Homo sapiens: one gene and its partner. The protein of the gene in region 2 binds, or shares a complex with, the protein of the main gene of each other region. Each region holds a gene or a part of one and is shown on either strand. Other genes may lie near its edges. The genes, in order: MIEF2 and DNM1L. A codon is read from its position in the direction of its gene.

What was found.
Region 1: the proteins of DNM1L (region 2) and MIEF2 are in contact, whole or in part, in a cryo-EM structure (PDB 5WP9), measured with the Homo sapiens proteins. Residues at the interface, in NP_036192.2 of Homo sapiens: Asp190, Met191, Ala192, Thr193, Ser194, Leu197, Lys198, Ile199, Arg201, Glu202, Gly223, Thr224, Asp225, Asp228, Arg233, Val234; in NP_631901.2 of Homo sapiens: Val213 (codon at 3,276), Asp214 (codon at 3,273), Thr215 (codon at 3,270), Val216 (codon at 3,267), Arg218 (codon at 3,261), Arg226 (codon at 3,237), Leu230 (codon at 3,225), Arg235 (codon at 3,210), Val245 (codon at 3,180), Gly246 (codon at 3,177), Tyr248 (codon at 3,171).

The regions. Positions count from the first base shown.
Region 1 is NC_000017.11:18,263,627-18,267,311, reverse strand, and holds the end of MIEF2 (mitochondrial dynamics protein MID49), read right to left. Parts: intron 3,603-3,685; coding exon 2,548-3,602; 3' UTR 760-2,547; downstream 1-759. UniProt on the Homo sapiens protein: Mitochondrial outer membrane protein involved in the regulation of mitochondrial organization.
Region 2 is NC_000012.12:32,682,148-32,689,441, forward strand, and holds part of DNM1L (dynamin-1-like protein), read left to right. Parts: intron 1-7,294. UniProt on the Homo sapiens protein: Functions in mitochondrial and peroxisomal division.

The DNA of each region.
Region 1 (3,685 bases), on a different chromosome or scaffold from region 2:
CAAGACCATCCTGGCCAACATGGTGAAAATCCATCTCTACTAAAAATACAAAAATTAGCCGAGCGTGGTAGCGCGCACTTGTAGTCCCAGCTACTCGGGAGGCTGAGGCAGAAGAATTGCTTTAACCCGGGAGGCAGAGGTTGCAGTGAGCCGAGATCGCACCACTGCACTCCAGCCTGGGCGACAGAGTGATACTCACTCTCAAAAGAAAAAAAACACAGGTTTCTAAAAAATGATGAGCATGGCTGAAGGGCTGTCAACAGCCCACTAATTACAGAAAGTATGGTGCAGGGCTCAGCAGTTCAGCCTTGCGGGAAGAAACATCCCAAACTGGCTGGTTCCCATTACTAAAGCAACACCAAGCTTTTCATCTTTTCCTTCCACTTACCTTACTTGTCACGGACAGAAAGTCTGTGTCCCCTTCAACTTGTATGCTGAAATCCTAACCCCCAAGGCACTGCTAACAGGAGATGGGGTCTTTGGGAAGTGATTCGATCATGAATGTGGGCCCCCACCCCATGGGTGGGCTTAGTTTCCTTATAAGAGACCCTAGGAGAGCATTTCCCCCCTTCCTCCACATGAGGACAGCTAGATGGGGACACCTATGAACCAGGATGTGGGCTCTCAACCAAACATGGAATCTGTGACTCACTCTTGGATTTCTAGCCTCCAAAATGGTAAGACATAAATTTCTGATGTTTATAAGCCACCTAGTCTATGGCATTTTGTTATCACAGCCCAAACAGACTGAGATGCTAATTTATTATTACTATTATTATTTTATTTTATTTTATTTTGAGACAGAGTTTCACTCTTGTTGCCTAGGCTGGAGTGCACTGGCACGATCTCAGCTCACCACAACCTCCGCCTCCCGGGTTCAAGCAATTCTCCTGCCTCAGCCTCCCAAGTAGCTGGGATTACAGGCATGTGCCACCATGCCCAGCTAATTTTTTTGAATTTTTACCAGAGATGGAGTTTCTCCACGTTGGTCAGCCTGGTCTTGAATTCCCAACCTCAGGTGATCTACCGGCCTCGGCTTCCCAAAGTGCTGGGATTATAGGCGTGAGCCACAGCGCGGGGCCAAGATGCTTATTTATTTATTTTTTTGAGACAGAGTCTTGCTCTGTCGCCAGTCTGGAGTGCAGTGGTGCAATTTCAGCTCATTGCAACCTCTACCTCCCGGGTTCAAGCAATTCTCCTGCCTCGGCCTCCCGAGTAGCTGGGACTATAGGTGCGTGCCACCACGCCCAGCTAATTTTTGTCTTTTTAGTAGAGTTGGGGTTTCATCATGTTGGTCAGGATGGTCTCGATCTCTTGACCTCGTGATCCGCCCGCCTCGGCCTCCCGATGTGCTGGGATTACAGATGCGAGCCACCACACCCGGCCAAGATGCTACTTTTTAAAGTAAACTCTACCACCTCCAATTGACCTCAAGCACTCTTGCCAAAGTGCCAGGACAAGCCACAGGACTTACAGAAAACCCTCAACAGCTGCGTATGAAAGCACCAAGACTCCCTTATCCAGCCTGAGTTATATATACATTAGAATTTTTTCCTTTTATTCTTGTTCACATCTTCGAAGCTGAGCTTCGTTTCAAAAGGAAGGATACCAGAGGCAGGAGGAGGGTCACTTGGGAGGGGAGGTGGAATCTCCCTCCTCTAGCCCCCTTGCTACCTCTTAACAGGCTTCAAAGTCAGAATACAGCCATCAGCTGAGAGCAGTTCATTTTGGCACACTGGGAGGCCGGCTGTGCACACCGGACCTCTCTAGTGGGGGATCAGGTCCTCTGCTCTCCAGTGGGGCCTGGAACAGCTCCAGTGAGATGCCCCAGCTGTGGGCTGGGGGTGCAGCACAGAGCCTCAGCTCCCCCAGGACCCTCAGCTGCCTGAAGAAAACACTCACCTGGCTGGAGGGAAAAAGGGCCTTGCCCTGAGGTATCAGGTGGGTGGCAAGTCATACTGAGCTCCCGCTCAGCAAGAAAACTAAACGCACAGAAGACAGCAGGAAAATGCCATCCTTTAACAGCCAAAAATCTGTCCTTCAGGGGCACCAGGTGACTCCAGCCCCTGGGGGACAGAACAAACACACCATACCTACCATCAGGCACCAGACGCCTCAAAACGCCTGGAGCTAGGGCCGGAAAAGGCGTTAAGTCACCTTCTCTCAGCAGAAATGTGAAGCTGGCCTTCAGCTTCTGCCCAGGATGGCAGAAACCACATTCTGTTGGTGGATTGGTTGCTGGTGATGGACAGAGCCAAAGGTCCTGGGGTTGGCCCCAAGAGCTGAAACGGTGCTTGCAGGAATGGCTGGCACTCCAAGCTGCCTGAGGCAGCCCAGCTGCACTCAGGTGACAGTGACCCAAGCTCTCTGGGCTCAGGGTTTATGGCCACCATAGCCCAAGCACATCCTGATGCCCTGGGTTTAAGTAATGTACCCTCCTTTGTTCTGGCAAAAAGCTAGAGAAAAACCACTATTCAAATCCCTGGAAGGGAGGTGGGTGCAGCTCCCCAGCATTAGAAAACATGGCAACCACCCGTTTCCACCCACCTAGAGCAGCCCCTCGGGCTCCTGTAGGCCACTGTATAGCGCATAGCCAATGTCGTCAATCTCCTCCTCACGCAAGCTGCTGAAGAGGTTCACGCTGGGGTTGAAGTGGCAGGGCAGGCTGGCCTGCTCCAGGCTGCCGATGAGCAGCTCCAGGGCTTGCAGGAAGCGCTCACCCAAGGCCTCCTCCGTCCAATCCACGTTGTCCTCCCCCAGACGCAGGACCACCTGGGTCAGGTGACCCCGGCCTAGCTGCCCCAGAGCCGAGCAACCACGGCAGACAGCACACAGCAGCAGCAGCAGCCGCCGGCGAGTCCCAGCGTCATGGTCGTCCAGGGCTCGCAGCCTAGCAGCCTCCACTGGATACAGGTCCTGCAGCCAGAGGTTCCCCGCCAGCCCCTCCAGGGGCCAGGCCAAGAGGAGGCGGTCGTCAGCATCGACCCCAGGGACTGCCACAAGCACAGCCACAGTGAGCTCCAGGCGTTCGTGCTGCACCTCGAGCAGCAGCTCCTCCGAGGCCATGCTGGGCCGGATCAGGCACCCGAGAAGGCTGCCAATGGCCGGCCAGTTGACAGAAGCAGCCAGCGCCTTGCGGAGTAGCTCCAGCAGGACGCGGGAGGAGAGGTAGCCCCCGACCAGGAAGCGGTCCCAGGGGCTGCTCCCACGGGGGCAGAACTCAAGCTGCGTCCTGCGCACGGCCCAGCAGCGAGGGTCCCTCGCCACAGTGTCCACGCCCGGCACCAGGCTCCACAGGCCCGGCTCCAGCACCAGTGGCACCAGGAGACGCACATGGTCCGCAGCCCCCGCCTGCAGCCCGTCGTAGAGCGGCCCCCCAGGCACGAATGCCCCAAAGGGCAGTTCCGGGAACTTGCTCCGAAAGTAGGCCTGCAGCTCCAGGGCGATGTCGCCAGCCAGCTGTTTGGCCAAAGCCACCTGGGCTGCTGGGATGGTCACACGGTCCCGCTCGAAGGCCAGCAGCCTCTCCTGCAGTGTCAGACACAGCGGTGCTGGGGAGCTGAGCTGTGGTGTCACCTCAGGATCAGTTTCTGCAGGCCCTTCTGCAGAGTGAAGGGGCGGGGAACATGTCGGAACAGCCTGTGATTAGTTAAGAAAACGCCACCGAGAACTAGCTGTGTGATGT
Region 2 (7,294 bases):
TTGAGACCGAGTTTCGCTCTTGTTGCCCAGGCTAGAGTGCAGTGCCATGATCTTGGTTCACTGCAACCTCTGCCTCCCGGCTTCAAGTGATTCTCCTGCCTCAGCCTCCCACATAGCTGGGATTACAGGCATGCACCACCACGCCCGGCTAATTTTGTATTTTTAGTAGAGACAGAGTTTCTCCATGTTGGTCAGGCTGGTATCCAACTCCCGACCTCAGGTGATCCACCCGTCTCGGCCTCCCAAAGTGCTGGGATTACAGGTGTGAACCACCCCGCCTGGCCTAAGAATCACTTTGAAACTAAGTTTCCTGGATCCTGTCTCCAGAGATTTTGATTTTATAAGCCTGGGTTGGGTGAGGGACCATAGGTGATTCTGATACAGATGGTTCCTAGATCCTAATTTGAAAAACATATTAGTGAATCATTGGATTTTAAAATGCATGATACTGGAAAAAGCAGGAAAATTAGGGGAGGTTGAATCTATGGCATACTACCATCCAGTACCATGCTGACTTTGGTGGCATTCTTGCTTTAATATATCACTTCCCAGGCAACCATTGCTGACCCCTAAATGTTTTAAACTTTGGTTTTATGAAATGCCCAAGTAACACTCATTTGGGGGCTAGGGACTTGGAGGAGTGGAGGTGAGGGAATCCTGTTTACAGCTATCAGTCATTCACATGTTTTATGTGTTAGCTAAATAAATTGCTTTTATTTTTTCTAGTAGAGACCATCTGTGTGAAATGAACAGACACAGTGGGGAGAGAGAGAAGGCTGATGATACTTTTAGACCATGGTGTAACTTTGCAAGTAGAGGAGATAAGACTTAAAACAACTTTTGTGACTCAACTTGGGAAATTTAATCCTATTTCTTAAATTAAGAATTGGAAAGGGGAGCCCTCCAGGTATGTAATCTAAACTACCACCCAATATAGGTATCCGAATACAGATGACATTAACCTGAGACTCTGGCTTAGTGTTCCTAGTAATGTACTTTACACTTTTCCTTTTATTTCAGTGATTTCAGCATTCTATCTTCAGTAATTCAGACAAATGTAAAAGGAAAAACAATTTGGATTTTTTATTTTTATTTTTTTAGGGTCTGGCTCTTTCACCCAGGCTGGAGTGCAGTGGCATAATCCATAGCTCACTGTAACCTCAAATTCCTGGGCTCAAGCAGTCCTCTTGCCTCAGCCTCCTGAGTAGCTGGGACTACAGGCACGCATCTGGCTAATTTTTTTTTTTAAATTTAAAATCGCTGCCTTACTATGTTGCCAAGGCTGGTCTCAAACTCCTGGGCTCAAATGATCCTCTTGCCTTGGCCTCCCAAAGTGCTAGGAGTATAGGTGTGAGCCACTGCACCTAGCCTAAAAATAATTTGGATTTTATTTTATTTTATTATTTATTTTTTTAGAGATGGAGTCTTGCTCTGTTGTCCAGGCTGGAGTGCAGTGGTGCGATCTCAACTCACTGCAACCTCCGCTTCCCGAGTTCAAGTGATTCTCCTGCCTCAGCCTCCTGAGTAGCTGGGATTACAGGTGCATGCCACCACGCCCAGCTAATTTTTGTATTTTTAGTAGAGATGGGGTTTCACTGTGTTGGTCAGGCTGGTCTCGAACTCCTGACCTCATGATCCACTTGCCTTGGCCTCCCAAAGTGCTGGAATTACAGACATGAGCCACTGTGCTCGGCCTAATTTTTGTATTTTTAGTAGAGACAGCATTTTACAACGTTGGCCAGACTGGTCTCAAACTCCTGACCTCAAATGATCTGCCTGCCTCAGCCTCCTGCTGGGATAACAGGTATGAGCCACCATGCCCGGCCAGTAATTTGGATTTTAATTTCTAATTTGCAAATCAACTTTTAAAAATTTAACATTAAAAATACTGAAATATTCATGTAACACAAAATTCACCCTTATAAAGTATACACAACTCAGCAGCGTTTAGTATGTTCACAAAGTTGTACCACCATAGTGTAATTCCAAAATATTTTCATTACCTGAAAAAGAAAACTCCTGCCCATAAGCAGTCACCCCCGTTTTGTCCTCCCCCAGCTTCTGACAGGTTTTGATTTTATAAGCCCCACGTGGGTGAGGGTCCATCGGTGACTCTGATACAGATGGTTCCTAGATCCTAATTTGAAAAATATATTAGTGAATCATTGGATTTTAAAATGCATGATACTGGAAAAAGCAGGTATCACTGGCAACCACTAATCTACTTTTTGTCTGTATGGATTTGCCTATTTGGGATATTTCACATTAGTGGAATCCTATAATATGTGATTTGATCTTTTGTGCCAGGCATCTGTTGCTCAACATAATTCTTTTTTTTTTTCTTTTTTGAGACAGAGTTTTGCTCTGTTGCTCAGGCTGGAGTGCAATGGCACAATCTCAGCTCACTGCAACCCTTCACCTTCCGGGTTCAGGTGATTCTTCTGCCTCAGCCCGGATTACAGGCGCGTGCTACCGCACCCAGCTAATTTTTTTGTATTTTTAGTAGAGACGAGGTTTTGCCATGTTGGCCAGGCTGGTCTCGAACTCCTGACCTCAAGTGATCTGCCTGCCTCAGCTTCCCAAAGTGCTGGGATTATAGGCATGAGCCACTCAACATAATGTTTTTTAGGTTCATCCATTATGTAGCATGGCAGAATAATAAATATTACATTGTATAGATACAGCACAGTTTATTCATCAATTGATGAATTTTTGGGTTGTTTCTATTTTTTGGCTATTATGAATAAATAATGCTCTGCGAACATTCGTTTACAAGTTTTTGTGTGAATGTGTATTTTTTTTTTTTTTTTGAGATGGAGTCTCGCTCTGTCACACAGGCTGGAATGCAGTGGCGTGATCTTGGCTCACCGCAAGCTCCGCCTCCCGGGTTTACGCCGTTCTCCTGCCTCAGCCTCCCGAGTAGCTGGGACTGCAGGTGCCCGCTACCACGCCCAGCTAATTTTTTGTTTTTAGTAGAGACAGGGTTTCACCGTGTTAGCCAGGATGGTCTCGATCTCCTCACCTCGTGATCCACCCGCCTCGGCCTCCCAAAGTGCTGGGATTACAGGCGTGAGCCACCGCGCCCGGTCAGTGAATGTGTATTTTTGATTCTCTTGGGTATATATCTAAGCGTAGACTTGCTGATTCATATGATAATTCTTACGTTTAACTTTCTGAAAAACTACCAAAGTGTTTTCCATAGTGGCTGCACCTTTTTTTTTTTTTTTTTTTGAGACAGGGTCTCACTTTCTCGCCCAGACTGGAGTGCTGTGGCGCTATCTTGGCTTACCGCAACCTCTGCCTCCCAGGCTCAAGGCGTTCTCCTGCTTCAGCATCCTGAGTAGCTGGGATTACAGGTGCCCGCCACTACTGCCCGGCTACTTTTTGTATTTTTAGTAGAGGCGAGGGTTTCCTTATATTGGTCAGGCTGGTCTCGAACTCCTGACCTCAAATGATCCACCCACCTCGGCCTCCCAAAGTGCTGGGATTACAGGCGTGAGCTGCTGCGCCCAGCCGTGGCTGCACCATTTCACATCCCCTCCAGGGTTCAGGTTTCTGCACATCCTTATCAACACTTGTTGTTATCTTTTTTTTTTAAGCGCTAAATCATTCTGGAATTCTTTATTTGAAAAACAGCACTTTTTGACACCTATGCCATTTCCTTCTCTTATGGACAACTTTTTTCATAGTTTGATGTCCCTCTCTCTTTTTTTTCTCCATGAGCACTGCTGTCTACATTTTAGCATTTATTGACTATAATTTAATTCCTGCTTATGCATTGTTTTCTTGTGTTCTTAGATAAATTTATGTTTTTCTCTTTTTTTGTATAGATTATGAGCTGCTGCTTTTTTTTAACTTAACAAAATTGAGGTGAAATTTGCAGAACATAAAATTAGCCTTTTTTTTTTTTTTTTTTTTTTGAGATGGAGTTTTGCTCTTGTTGCCCAGGCTGGAGTGCAATGGCGCGATCTCGGCTCACAGCAACCTCCACCTCCCGGGTTCAAGTGATTCTCCTGCCTCAGCCTCTCAAGTAGCTGGGATTACAAGCATGTGCCATGCCTGGCTAATTTTGTATTTTTAGTAGAGACAGGGTTTCTCCATGTTGGTCAGGCTAGTCTCAAACTCATGACCTCAGGTGATCCGTCCACCTCGACCTCCCAAAGTGCTGGGATTACAGGTGTGAGCCACTGTGCCCAGCCAAAATTAGCCCTTTTATAAAATGTATAATTCAGTGTCATTTAGTGCATTCATAATGACATCTCTGTCTAGGTCCAAAACAATTTCATCACGAAAGAAAACTACTATTGAGCTGTCACTCCCTCTTCTTTCTTTTCCATTTAATGGCTGAGTAATATTCTGTTATATGTATAAACCACATTGGTTTATTCAATCACCTATTGATGAGCAATTGGGTTGTTTCTGCCTTTTAGCTGTTGTGAATAGTGCTGCTGTGAATATTGGTGTACAAGTATTTGAGTACCTGTTATCAGTTATTTTGGTATATACCTAGGAGTAAAATTACTGGGTTCTATGGTAATTTTGTTTAACTTTTTGAGCAACCACTTTTCCACAGCAGCTACACCATTTTAAAATTCCCACCAGCAATGTTTGAAGGGTGCAGTTTTTCTGTATCTTTGTCAACATTTGTTATTATCTGTTTTTGATTATAGTCATCCTAATGGGTGTGAAGTTTTGTTTTGCATTTCCCTAATGACTAATGGTGTTGAACATCTTTTCATGTGTTTGTTGGGGTTGTCTTATTGTTGAGGTTGTAAGAGTTCTTTTTTTTCTTTTTTTTTTTTTTTTTTTGAGATGGAGTCTCGCTCTGTTGCCCAGGTGGCCAGGCTGGTCTTGAACTCCTGACCTCAGGTGATCCGCCTGCCTTGGCCTCCCAAAGTGCTGGCATTATAGGCATGAGCCACCACACCCGGCCTTGTCTTTTTGCTTCCTTGTTAGTGTCCTTCAATACACAAAAGGTTTTACTTTTGGTTAAGGCTAATTTATCTTTTTTTTTCCTTTTATTGCTTTATGGTGTCATATCTAAGGCATTGACAAATCCAAAGCCGTGAAGATTTTTTTTTATTTTTTAATGTTTTTTCCCCTAATTATTTTATAGTTTTGGCTTGTATATTTAGGCTTTTGATCCATTTTGAGTACATCTTGGTATGGTATGAGGTAGGGGTTCATTTCATTTTTTTTGCACGTGCTTCTCCAGTTGACCTAGTACCATTTGTTGGAGAGACTGTTCTTTCCCCATTGAATAGTCTTGGCATTGTTGAAAATCAGTTGAGCAAAGATTTTGTTGTTGTTGTTGAGACAGGGTCTCACTCTGTCACCCAGGCTGGAGTGCAATGATGCAGTCTTGGGTCACTACAGCCTCCACCTCCTGAGTTCAAGCGATTCTTCTGCCTCATCCTCCCAAGTAGCTGAGACTACAGTCACCTGCCATCACGCCGGGCTATTTTTTTTGGTATTTTTTTTTAGTAGATACGGGGTTTTGCCATGTTGGCCAGGCTGGTCTTGAACTCCTGACCTCAGGTGATCCATCCACCTCGGCCTCCCAAAGTGCTGGGAATACAGGCATGAGCCACCATGCCTGGCCAGCCAAAGATTTATTATATGGGTTTATTTCTGGATTCTCAGTTCTATTCTGCTTTGATTACTGTAGCTTTGGAGTATATTTAAAATTTGAGAAGTGTAACTTTACCAGCATTGTTTTTCTTTTTCAAAATTGTTTTGGTTGTTTGGGGTCCCTTGTCATTCAATATGAATTTTATTTTATATTATTTTATTTTGAGAGGTAGTCTTACTCTGTCGCCCAGGCTGGAGTGCAGTGGCGTGATCTCGTTTCACTTGCAGCCTCTGCCTCCTGGGTTCAAGCGATCCAACCACCTCAGGCTGCAAGTAGCTGAGATTACAGGTGCCCACCACCATGCCTGGCTAATATTTGTTTTTTTAGTAGAGATGGGGTTTCACCACGTTGGCAAGATTGATCTCAAACTCCTAACCTCAGGTGATCTGCCCACCTTGGCCTCCCAAAATGCTGGGATTACAGGCGTGAGCCACTGTGTGGGCCCCGTATGAATTTTAGATTTGGCTTCTCCATTTCTGTAAACAAGACAGTTGGGATTTTGATGGGGATTGTGTTGCCTCTATAGGTTGCTTCAGGTTTTATTGGCATCTTAACCATTTTAAGTTAGAATTTTTGATGGGGAGGTTTTTTCTTTTAGCACTTTATCTTACTGCCTCTGGCTCCTATGGTTTCTTTTCTCTTTTCTTTCTTTGAAAACAAGTTTATTAAAGTAAAGGAATAAAAGAATGGCTACTCCATAGGCAGAGCTGCTGTGGCCCCTATGGTTTCTGATGAGAAGTCTGTTGTATCTGTTGTTAGTCTTACTGAGGATCCCTTGTTCATGACTCTTAGCTTCTCTCTTGCTGCTTTTAGCATTTGTCTTTGTCTTTCAACAGTTTGATTATAATTTATCTCAATGTGTGTATTTCTTTGTGTTTATCCTGCTTTGAGTTCATCGAGCTTCTTGGATGTGTAGATTCATATCACTTTTTCATGCTTTTATGGAAGAAGTGGGGATTTTCACAGACGATAATTCTGCCTTATCAGATATCTGAATCTCTCTCTTAGTGATCTAGAAAGCACTGGACCTATAGTTTTATAACCAAGAAAAAATTCCTTCCTAAGGACTGTTAGGTCTGCAGTATTTTAGAAAGTTTGGATTTTGGGTATTAAGTTCATATAAGAACACTCTTTTAAGCCAAGTGTGGTGGCCTGTGCCTGTAGTCCCTTTTACTTGGGAGACCTGGTGGCAAGGCTGCTTGAGCCCAGGAGGTTGAGGGCTGTAGTTCACTGTGATTGTGCTGTGAATAGCTGCTGCACTCCAGCCTAAGCAACATAGTGAGACCTGGTCTCTTAAGAACAAAAAACACCCCACATATTAACTACAAATTATGAAGTGGTTTAAACTTCATATTTATATTTTGTCATTAGGTAGAGGGTTTGAGCTATATGGTAGAAACATTGTAGTTTAGCTATTTTATTTTATTTTATTTTTGAGGCAGAGTTTCGCTCTCGTTGCCCAGGCTGGATTGCAATGGCGTGATCCTGGCTGACTGCAACTTCTGCCTCCTGAGTTCAAGTGATTCTACTGTCTCAGCTTCCCGAGTAGCTGGGATTACAGGCATGCGCCACCACGCCTGGCTAATTTTGTATTTTTAGTAGAGACAAGGTTTCTCCATGTTAGTCAGTCTGGTCTCAACCTCAGGTGATCTGCCCGCCTCA